Linked DNA regions of Homo sapiens. The protein of the gene in region 1 interacts with the protein of each later gene in a pairwise test. Each region holds a gene or a part of one and is shown in the gene's direction. Other genes may lie near its edges.

The links.
Region 2: the proteins of ANXA9 (region 1) and PPL interact in binary tests that used the Homo sapiens proteins (3 or more experiments, as listed by UniProt).

The regions. Positions count from the first base shown.
Region 1 is NC_000001.11:150,992,132-150,996,262, forward strand, and holds the end of ANXA9 (annexin A9), read left to right. Parts: intron 1-2,445; coding exon 2,446-2,568; coding exon of another isoform or gene 2,569-2,682; exon of another isoform or gene 2,683-3,128; coding exon 3,129-3,191; 3' UTR 3,192-3,503; downstream 3,504-4,131. UniProt on the Homo sapiens protein: Low affinity receptor for acetylcholine known to be targeted by disease-causing pemphigus vulgaris antibodies in keratinocytes.
Region 2 is NC_000016.10:4,891,993-4,899,280, reverse strand, and holds part of PPL (periplakin), read left to right. Parts: coding exon 1-58; intron 59-160; coding exon 161-268; intron 269-1,510; coding exon 1,511-1,606; intron 1,607-2,700; exon of another isoform or gene 2,701-3,564; coding exon 3,565-3,687; intron 3,688-3,846; exon of another isoform or gene 3,847-3,873; coding exon 3,874-4,020; intron 4,021-4,614; coding exon of another isoform or gene 4,615-4,662; coding exon 4,663-4,814; intron 4,815-5,642; coding exon 5,643-5,740; intron 5,741-5,910; coding exon 5,911-6,068; intron 6,069-7,067; coding exon 7,068-7,246; intron 7,247-7,288. UniProt on the Homo sapiens protein: Component of the cornified envelope of keratinocytes. May link the cornified envelope to desmosomes and intermediate filaments. May act as a localization signal in PKB/AKT-mediated signaling.

The DNA.
Region 1 (4,131 bases):
AGAAAAACAACCTTCAGAAAATCAGCAATGGCTGATTCAGGACAAATTTCCACCAATCTGTAGTAAAAATTAATGTTCCTGGTGAAGATCCTAGGGCCATATGCAATGCCAGGTATACGATTAAGTATTATAATTAGGCCAGGCATGGTGGCTCATGCCTGTAATCCCAGCACTTTGGGAGGCCAAGGCAGGTGAATCACCCGAGGTCAGGAGTTCGAGACCAGACTGACCAACATGGTGAAACCCCGTCTCTACTAAATATACAAAATTAGCTAGGTGTGGTGGTGTGCACCTGTATTTCCAGCTACTTGGGAGGCTGAGATAGGAGAATTGCTTGAACCTGGGAGGCAGAGGTTACAGTGACCTGAGATCGCACCACTGCACCCCAGCCTGGGTAACAGAGTGAGACTCCATCTAAACAAACAAACCATATATATATATGCTGAAGCGAGCAGATCACTTGAGGTCAGGAGTTTGAGACCAGCCTGGCCAACATGGTAAAACCCCACCTGTACTAAAAATAAAAAAATTAGCTGGGCGTTTGGCACATGCTATAGTCCCAGCTGCTTGGGAGGCTGAGGCAGGAGACTTGCTTGAACCTGGGAGGCGGAGGTTGCAGTGAGCTGAATTCACGCCACTGCATTCCACTCTGGGTGACAGAGCAAGAAAAAAGAATACTTGTACAACAATGAGAGTATTCAGTTAATGAGTGACTCTTGCCCAATTCTGTAACTTTAGAGTAACAAGCGTTGGAAGAAGAGAAGAATGGATACTGGGGAGCAATTGGCAATCTTTATGACAATACAAAACTAATGATGCATAAAAGTTAAAATGAAGTAGACATTAGGTCCACTGACAATTAGGTAATGAGTCTAAATGAATTGGAGCATCCTGTTTTACTTCATTTTCTTTTGTTTTGTCAAAGGAGTTTATGATCTATTGGGATGCCCTAAGTATGTGTTGTAGGCAGTTCTGGGAAGAGTCTTGTGAGTAAAGTGACTCAGGAAACTCTGAAAATGAGGATATTAGGAATTGATGACAACACTGGTGCACAGAAAAAAAAAAACACAGGAATTTTACAATTAAAAGTTTTTATTTAAAAATCTCTCATAACAACACATTACTTAGTATAATCAATTATAATTCAGGATTTTGATGACTTGTACCTGTGTTATTTCTTTTCTTTTCTTTTTTTTTGAGACGGAGTCTTGCTCTGTCCCAGGCTGGAGTGCAGTGGTGTGATCTCAGCTTACTGCAACGTCCGCCTCCCAGGTTCAAGCAATTCTCCTACCTCACCCTCCTCAGTAGCTGGGATTATAGGCGCCTACCACCACACCTGGCTAATTTTTGTAGTTTTAATAGAGACGGGGGTTTCACCATGTTGGCCAGGCTGGTCTCGAACTCCTGACCATAAATGATCTGCTTGCCTTGGCCTCCCAAAATTCTGGGATTACAGGCATGAGCCACCACACCTGGCCTGTTATTTCTTTTTTCTTTCTTTCTTTTTTTTTTTTTTTTTTGAGACGGAGTTTTGCTCTTCTTGCCCAGGTTGGAGTGCAGTGGCGCGATCTCAGCTCACTGCAACCTCCGCCTCCTGGGTTCAAGCAATTCTCCTGCCTCAGCCTTCCAAGTAGCTGGGATTGCAGGCACCCACCACCATGCCTGGCTTATTTTTGTATTTTTAGTAGAGACGGGGTTTCACCATTTTGGTCAGGCTGGTCTCGAACTCCTACCTCAGATGATCCACGCGCCTCATCCTCCCAAAGTGCTGGGATTACAGGCATGAGCCACTGTGCCTGGCCTGTTATTTCTAAACTGAACCTTTCATTACTTTCTTTAGCCAAAAAACAGGCCTGCTGCATGTACAGGAGGAAGATAGCAATGTTTCAGCCTAAGGGTCCAACCGGAGAAACTAATATGCAGAGATGGGGCTGTGAGATGGCCCTATTGGGTTGGAATCAGAACTAGAAGTCACACAACCTTGAACCCTATCAGAGCCTCATCAGCTCAGTTTAGGGATAGGGCAGGTATATCCTCCTTGGATATTCACTAACTTGAAAGTTAAAAGCAGTTTTCCTGGTTTTCATGCTGGCAGTCTTTATATGCACCAAATCTTTTCTAGCCTTCCTGGTGTACCTATCTTTGGAGCTGCTCACCACCAAATTCTGGAGGTACACAGCTCTAAGCTAATGGTAGGGGCAGGAAAGACATGTGGAAAGAAATAAATACTCAAGCTGCCCCCACAGAGACTGATCTTTCCTGCTGTGTCATCTTCCTTGAGGATGGACAAACATAACTTTTGTCCCGAGATAATGTATAATGTACACTCTTATCCCTTGACTCCCACCTTGCCTCCCCTTCCTACAATAACCCTCCAAGCCATTCAACCCCTACTCTCAGTGAGACTCTCACTAACTACCCCCCATCTCTTTCTTCCCCTACTAGGAAACTGAGCCCAATTACCAAGTCCTGATTCGCATCCTTATCTCTCGATGTGAGACTGACCTTCTGAGTATCAGAGCTGAGTTCAGGAAGAAATTTGGGAAGTCCCTCTACTCTTCTCTCCAGGTGAAACTTGGCTACTTCTTAGCCTGGAGCCTCAGGCCTTCACTCCTCACCTCCACCCTCACTCCCTGCACACAGCTGAGCATATTCTTGCCCCATAGAAAACCCAGTAGTTAGCCAGGCACAGTGGCTCACGCCTGTAATCCCAGCACTTTGAGAGGCTGAGGTGGGCGGATCACGAGGTCAGGAGTTCAAGACCACCCTGACCAACATGGTGAAACCCCGTCTCTACTAAAAATACAAAAATTAGCCAGGCATGGTGGCGTGCACCTGTAATCCCAGCTACTCAGGAGGCTGAGGCAGGAGAGTCGCTTGAACCCAGAAGGCAGAGGTTGCAGTGAGCCAAGATCGTGCCACTGCACTCCCACCTGGGTGACAGGGCAAGACTCCATCTTAAAAAAGAAAACCCAGGAGTCTTTGGTTAATGTAGTGCAGGACTCTGAGCTCCCGGGAGGACCCTTCCCTCCCAGATGAACTGTGATGGACCAGCCCAAAGGAGGGGAGAGAGCACTTGGGCCATAGTGGTGGTGGATCTTTCTAACACTGAATTCCCTTGTCTGCAGGATGCAGTGAAAGGGGATTGCCAGTCAGCCCTCCTGGCCTTGTGCAGGGCTGAAGACATGTGAGACTTCCCTGCCCCACCCCACATGACATCCGAGGATCTGAGATTTCCGTGTTTGGCTGAACCTGGGAGACCAGCTGGGCCTCCAAGTAGGATAACCCCTCACTGAGCACCACATTCTCTAGCTTCTTGTTGAGGCTGGAACTGTTTCTTTAAAATCCCTTAATTTTCCCATCTCAAAATTATATCTGTACCTGGGTCATCCAGCTCCTTCTTGGGTGTGGGGAAATGAGTTTTCTTTGATAGTTTCTGCCTCACTCATCCCTCCTGTACCCTGGCCAGAACATCTCACTGATACTCGAATTCTTTTGGCAAACTTCGCTGTTGTTTGTGTTCCCTGATTGAAGGTTGGGTGGAGCAGGACATGGACCGGGAAGAGGCACTGGAGTTGGAAGTGCCTTTGATGTGCACTTGGCTATTCCGCAGGAATCCTGTTTTGCCTTAGTGCTACAGTAATCCACACCCAGGTCTCCCACTCCAGGTCTCCCCTCACCCTCATTCTCCAGGAAACTTCAGGCAAAATAATTGAGAAACAGGCATTAGAACAAGGTGAGAAATAGAGGGAGCAAAGGACCATCTGTATGAACTGGGAAGCAAGCGGAGGGCCAAGCTACCCTCCCCAGCATGGGAATTCTTGGGTTAGTGGAGAGCACAACCCTCAAATTCATGTGTCCAAGCAGAGATTTGGAAACCCACCTCCCAGGAGAGCACTATTTCCCATAGAAAACAAAAACAAAAACAGAAACAAAAACAAAAAGTCAGGCTTTGGTTCCCCCTGCAGGCTATATTAGAAATGACAGGTAGCTGGGCGCAGTGGCTCACGCCTGTAATTCCAGCACTTCGGGAGGCCAAGGCAGGCGGATTACTTGAGGTCAGGAATTCAAGACTAGCCTGACCAAAGTGGCGAAACCGTCTCTACTAAAAATACAAAAATTAGCTGGGCG
Region 2 (7,288 bases), on another chromosome or scaffold:
GCAGTACGACTGGAGTGACCGCAACCTCGACTACCCCAGCCGCCGGCGCCAGTATGAGGTGGGTTCTGGGGGCCTGGGGCATCAGGGAGGAGGCAGCCCTGGAAGGAGCACGGGACCGCCAGGCTGGGCACTGAGGCCCCTCCACTGCCCCCCACTGCAGAATTTCATCAACCGGAACCTGGAGGCCAAAGAGGAGAGAATCAACAAACTGCACAGCGAGGGCGACCAGCTGCTGGCGGCCGAGCACCCCGGGAGGAACTCCATTGAGGTTCATGCACCCCGAGACCAGACACCTCCCCCAGGGTGGCTTCTGGTTGGCCGCTGCCTGTGGGCCGCCTGGAGCTCGGGCAGACCCCGGAGCTGGGGGTCCTGCAAGCTGCATCTTGTGTCTGTCTGTCTCTTTCTTGCTGTGTCTGACTCTGCCTCCTCCATTTATCCTGATCCGTTGACACTTCTGCCCTCAGCCCCTGGACTTCTGAAGCCCCTGTGGGGTCTGTATTAGTTTCCTAGAGTTGCTGCAACAAGTTAAAACAAACTTAGTGGCTTTAAACAACAGAAATTCATTCTCTCAGAGGTCTGTGGGCTGTAAGTCTGAAATCAAGGTGTCTTAGGGCCTCATTCCCTCTGGAAGCTCCAGGACATGTGCCTTCCTTGCTCTTCCGGCTTCTGGGGGTTGCCAACAGCCCTTGGCTTGTGGCTGCATCATTCCAGTCCCTTCCTCCGTCTTCACATGGCCTTCTCTCCCCATGTCTCTCTGTATCCTCTCTTCTTATAAGGATATCAGTCAGTGGATTTAGGGCTCACCCTAATTTCAGGATCCTTAACTAATGACATCTGCAAAGATCTTATTCCCAAATAAGGTCGCATTCTTCCCAACCCCCACAATGCCACCAACCCCGCCTGAGATGGAGTTTCGCTGTTGTTGCCCAGGCTGGAGTGCGATGGTGTAATCTTGGCTCACTGCAACCTCCACCTCCCGGGTTCAAGCAATTCTCCTGCCTCAGCCTCCCAAGTAGCTGGGACTACAGGCGCACACCATCATGCCCAGCTAATTTTTGTATTTTTAGTAGAGACAGGGTCTCATCATGTGGGCCAGGCTAGTCTCAAACTCCTGACCTCAGGTGATCCACCCGCCTCGGCCTCCCAAAGTGCTGCGATTACAGGTGTGAGCCACCATGCCTGGCCAGGGTCATGGATTTGGTGGGACACTGTTCGGTCCATGACAGTGCCTTTGTACAGATTTGCCGAAGGCACCACAGCCCCCACTTGCCCTTTGTGCACTGCACAGCCTGGGCATCCGTATGTGGCATCCCTGTTTGGCTCCTTGACGTGACCCCTCTCTCCTCCTCCCACTCCTGAGCAGAAGCTGGCTACCCCTGTGGTAGCCACACCCAGACAGATGCCAGATGCCTCCCTCCCCCGCCATGCCCCAGCCCAATATCCCAGCAGTCCCTCCCTTGGTGTCTGCAGTACCTGCCCAGTGGTGACCGGCCCCTTCTCTTCCTGGCAGGCGCACATGGAGGCTGTGCACGCAGACTGGAAGGAGTACCTGAACCTGCTCATCTGCGAGGAGAGCCACCTCAAGTACATGGAGGACTACCACCAGGTACTTACCTTTCCTGGGAGTCCCCCCAGCACCGGGGGTGCTACTCTCTGAGAGCGCTCAGTGCCTACCTGGCTCATGTGTGGCCTCGTGCTCCTTGGTCCAGGAGCCTTGCGGGGCAGCCATCCCAGGCCCCCAGCACCCATGCTTCTGATGGCGTGTGCAGACATGTCCCAAGCTTGCCGGCCCCTGTCCAACTTCCCTGGGGACCAGGGCCAGAGTCTGATTCCCCAGGTCACATGGGGCCCAGGGTGAGTGTGTAGGGTTTTAATTTTGGTAAAATCTATAATATACATGCAGATACATAAAACAAAATTTGCCTTTTTTTTTTTTTTTTTTTTTTTTGAGAGAGTCTTGCCCTGTCACCCAGGCTGGAGTGCAGTCGTGCCATCTCGGCTCACTACAACCTCCACCTCCTGGGTTCAAGTGATTCTCCTGCCTCAGCCTCCTGAACAGCTGGGATTACAAGTGCCCACCACCACACCCAGCTAATTTTTGTATTTTCAGTAAAGATGGGGTTTCGCCATGTTGGTCAGGCTGGTCTCGAACTCCTGACCTCAGGTGATCCTCCCGCCTCGGCCTCCTAAAGTGTTGGGATTACAGGTGTGAGCCACCACACCCGGCCAGTTTGCATTTTTAAGTGTACAATTCAGTGGCATTCATTGCATTCGCAATGTTATGCAACCATCACCACCATCTACTTGCAAAACTTTCCATCACCCCAAACAGAAACCCTATACCCTGGCTGGGCACGGTAGCTCATGTCTGTAATTCCAGCACTCTGGGAAGCCGAGGCGACTGGATCACCTGAGGTCAGGAGTTCAAGACCAGCCTGGCCAACATGATGAAACCCCATCTCTACTAAAATACAAAAGTTAGCCAGGTGTGGTGGCCCATATCTGTAGTCCCAGATGGGAGGCTGAGGCAGGAGAACTGCTTGAACCCAGGAGGCAGAGGTTGCAGTGAGCTGAGATCGCGCCATTGCACTCCAGCCTGGGCGACAGAGTGAGTCTCCGCCTCAAAAAAAAAAAAAAAAAACAACCCCGTACTCATTAGGCAGTAAGTTTTCCATTCCCACTCCCCCAGCCCCAGGTCACCTTTGGTCTTCTTGCTGTCTCTATGGACTTGCCTGTTCCAGAAGTGTCACACCTAGAACGAATATGAAGAATCAGTGGGATCATGCAATCTCTGCCCTTTTGTGTCTGGCTTCTCTCACTGAGCATCATGTTTTCCGGGTTCATCCGTGTTGTAGCATTTTCAGTGCTTCACCCCTTTTTATGGCTGAATCATATCCTATTGTATGGCTAGACCACTGTGTTTATCCACTCATCTGTGGCTGGACACTTGTCTGTTTCCAGAGGAATGAGAGTTCTTAAGAAGCTGCGGGTAATTCTTAGGATTGAGGTGTCTGGGGAAAGCTGGATGTGGGCGACGCCGTGTCACTCCTCATTCCCTGTCTGAGCCGCACAGTGGGGGCTTCAGGTCCTGTTTATGGCTGCAGCCCAGGTGCTCAGCCCAGGGGATAGCTGACAGTGAACCAAGAGTTGATAGACTGAAGAATGGGCAAGAGAATTTTCGAGAACAAAAAGGGGAGGCTATTATCAAAACCTAGAAAGAAGCTATAGTATTAAGTCTGGATGTTCCTAGTACAGAGAGAGGAACTGAATCAAAGACACCTCAAGACTTACTGATACATCCAAGAAAACATGTCACAGAGGTGGCATCTCATGGATGGGTGGGAAGGGACCTGGCTTTTCCCAGTGAGGCCCCTAAGGAGCCAGCTCAGGGAGGGTGGGGCTGTCTCCACGCAGAGGAGCCTCAGGCTCAGCACAGGGTCCCATGCTGGACTCCAGGTGAACCGGAGGCCCAGCCCCGCCTGAGGGATGAGCTTGAAGCCTCCGACAGAAGCCCAGGTGCTTCTAGTGGTTTCCTGGCTGTAACAGAGCCACCTTCTCCCCTAGTTTCACGAAGACGTGAAGGACGCTCAGGAGCTGCTGCGCAAGGTGGACTCGGACCTGAACCAGAAGTATGGCCCTGACTTCAAGGACCGGTACCAGATTGAGCTGCTGCTGCGGGAGCTGGATGTGAGCGATGGCCCAGGACCCCTGCTGGCCCGGGGGGCGGGGGACCCCTCTACACCATGCCTGCCCTCAGCCCTGTACAGGCCCCTCCACAGCACCCCACCTGCTGAATCCAGCCCCTGCTCTGCGTCCTCCCACCAGGGGGAAGGCTGTTGGTCTCACCTGGGCCCCTGACCCCGTTCTCTCCAGGACCAGGAGAAGGTGCTGGACAAGTATGAGGACGTGGTGCAGGGGCTGCAGAAGCGAGGCCAGCAGGTGGTGCCCCTCAAGTACCGCCGGGAGACTCCGCTCAAGCCCATCCCCGTGGAGGCACTCTGTGACTTTGAGGGGGAGCAGGTGCGTGGGGCCAGCTCCTCTGTTCACATCACTACAAAGTTTTTGGGGTAACATGGTTGGATCCCGGGCCTCAGGCGCCGTTCTCAGGAGCCTGTGCCTGTCTCCGTGGTTGGTGTCACTCTGCCAACCCTTCCCCTGGTGCAGGCCAACTGGCACCCCTATGCCGCCCCCACCTCGGCTGCCCTGGCCTTGTGTTCCACCAGCTTAGCAACCCCAGTCCCTCCTCAGAAGTCCCAGGCCAGGTTCTCATTGGCTCACTGTGAGTCACGTGTCCATCCTACACCAATCACTGTGGCCAGGGAATGCCAGGGTCCACCCTATACCAATGACTGTGGCTGGCGAATGCCAGTCATTGGCCAGGTCCAAGTCACATGTCCATCTGGAGCTTGGGAATGGAGAAGGAGAGACCACAGGGACTGGGAATTGGGAGGGAAGGTTCCCCAAAGGGAAATGGAGGTGGGTTGCTGGGCCGGCAGCCTCAACACATGTGCTTCTCCTGCATGCCCCTCCCCACTCTACGGGGAGGGTCCAAGTGATGAGCCGGGGCTCCCCAGGTCCAAGAGTCGGGGGCTGAGATGGCAACCGGGCTCCCAGGCCCTCAGGCCCTGCCGGGATCCTGACTGTCCAGCCTGCCCCCGCCAGGGCCTGATCTCGCGGGGCTACAGCTACACCCTGCAGAAGAACAACGGGGAGAGCTGGGAGCTCATGGACAGCGCTGGGAACAAGCTGATTGCTCCGGCCGTGTGTTTTGTGATCCCCCCCACAGACCCTGAGGCCCTGGCTCTGGCTGACAGGTACAAGGGCAAAGGCGGGAGTCTGCATGGACCAGTCCCACCCCCAGGGCTTCTCAGGCCCCATTCATAGCCCCGGGGATTTGGACTCAGCCTGTGGGGAGCGCGGGGTCGCTGACACTCTCCATCTGCACCCCCTTGGAAGTTCATGCAGGAGAGGGGCAGATTGTGGGCCAGCTGACTTGCTAAACATGAATGTCTAGCTCTGGGCTTCGTCCTGGCCCCCTCACGAGTTTCTAAGCAGTTTCTAAGGGCCCCTGACTCCCGCACGCACTGCTCCCTGTACTTGCAGACCCCAGCCCCTTGGCTGGAGGACTCAGCTGGGATAAGGGCTGCCTCCTCTTTGCTCCCAGGCACCTTCTTCCACTGCACGCACCGCTTTTTATTAAGTGACTAGCGTATGCGTCAGTCTCATTGGGCCTGGGCTCCTTGAATTTCCTCTCTCCAGGGCCTAGTTAAGTACCTGGTACAAAGTAGGTGCCCAGGAACTCCTTGCTGAATGAGTGGATCATTCAAGGAATGCCTTCATTTATTAAGTATTTATTGAGCACCTACTGTGTATGCTCCCTCAGAAGTAACATCTTGGTGGTGATTATTGGACAGACAATTTTAGGTAGTGAGACTTCCTACGAAAGAGGAGGGAAGGAGGGAGAAGAGCTCTGAGCCCAGGAGCACAGAAAGGCCAGTGCCACAGTGAGCACTTGCTGTCCGCATCTAAGGAGCTGTCAGGCTCCTCTGGGGTGTCTGCCCAGCCAGAGTCCGCAGTCCCGCCTCTGTGGGTGCAGGGGGTGGTGGGCTGCCCAGGTTCCCAGCTCATTTCTGTCCTCACAGCCTGGGCAGCCAGTACCGGAGCGTGCGGCAGAAGGCAGCTGGGAGCAAACGCACGCTGCAGCAGCGGTATGAGGTGCTGAAGACCGAGAATCCCGGAGGTGGGTGCCAGGGCCACTCGCCTGAGGCTCTGGGGGTACCGGGGAGGAGGGGCTGGACCAGGGTCTGTGCTGTGGATGAGACGGCGGGGGGCTGGCTGCCTAGGTCCATCCCTGGGCCTCACACCCCTGGCCCGTTGTCACACCTGCCTGTGTCCTCCCTCCCTCCACAGATGCCTCTGACCTACAGGGGCGGCAGCTGCTGGCTGGCTTGGACAAGGTGGCCAGCGACCTGGACCGGCAGGAGAAGGCCATCACAGGGATCCTGCGGCCACCACTGGAGCAAGGCCGGGCTGTGCAGGACAGTGCCGAGCGGGCCAAGGACCTCAAGGTACCTGCGGGTCAGGAGCACAGGTGGGGCCGGGGGAGCCCTGCACTGGCCCCCTGGGGCCCCTATTTGAGGTCTTTTCCCCATGGAGTCTTGGGATATTCACTGCAGCTGTCTGTCAGGGACAGCCTGCTGCATGTAAAAGGGTCCCAAGTCATGGAGGTGGCAGGGCTGCTGTCATTACCTCCCCAGGAGAAAGAGCTGGCAGGACTTGCATTGTTCCTGCACGGCTTGTCGATCTGACGCCTGGCATGGCACATGGGCTGTGGAATTCCGCAGGACTGGGTCACCGGCTGGCTTGACTGCAAACACGTTAGCGTTTGTATTTATAAACTCCAGGCCTCAGTGTCTTCAGTAGGATGGGTTGGCCCTGCTCACAGGGCAGTGGCGAGGACAGGGTGAGCTGATGCCAGGGGGGACGTGGAGGGGCCACCTCCCCCCACCTCCTTTCCTATACAAAGTCTCCCACATCCTCAAGGCAGCCCTCTGAGGCAGTGAGTAGCACTCCAATTTTACAGAAGAGGATCTGGGATTGGAGAAGTGCCATAGCCCCTGATGGGGCCTCAGAGTGAGAGCCAAGTCAGGGCGAGAGGATGCCGGTCTCGGGTGTAGCCTGACCCCACAAGTCCCTTCCTAAGCTGCTGGGAGTCGTCACACCCCCACCCGTGACTGGGTGGAGTCGTAGTACTCACCTCCCGGGGTTGCCGCAAAGATTAAACAGAAGCGTCCGCGTGCAGTGCTGAGGACAGCACAGGCCCGGCAGCTGCCTGGGTGCTTCTGGTGTCACTAGTCCATTCCACCTCAGCGGTTCCCTGGGATGCTCGTGAAAAATACAGCCCTCAGGCTGGGGTCCAGATGCCGGGTCAGAGCCCCAGAATGTGCCAGGCCTCTCCAGCTGCTTCCACTGTGCCTGATGTGGGAATCTGTGCTCACCCTGGGCACATCCTCAGGGGAAGGGGCTGCCTGGCTGTGTCCAAAACTGAGGGGCCCTGGTTCCCACAGAACATCACCAACGAGCTACTGCGGATTGAACCTGAGAAGACGCGGAGCACGGCTGAGGGCGAAGCCTTCATCCAGGCCCTCCCAGGCAGTGGCACCACACCCCTGCTGAGGACCCGGGTGGAGGACACCAACCGGAAATACGAGCACCTCCTGCAGCTGCTGGACTTGGCCCAGGAGAAGTGGGTGGCAGACAGGCAGCATGGAGGTTGGGGTGGGGTCAG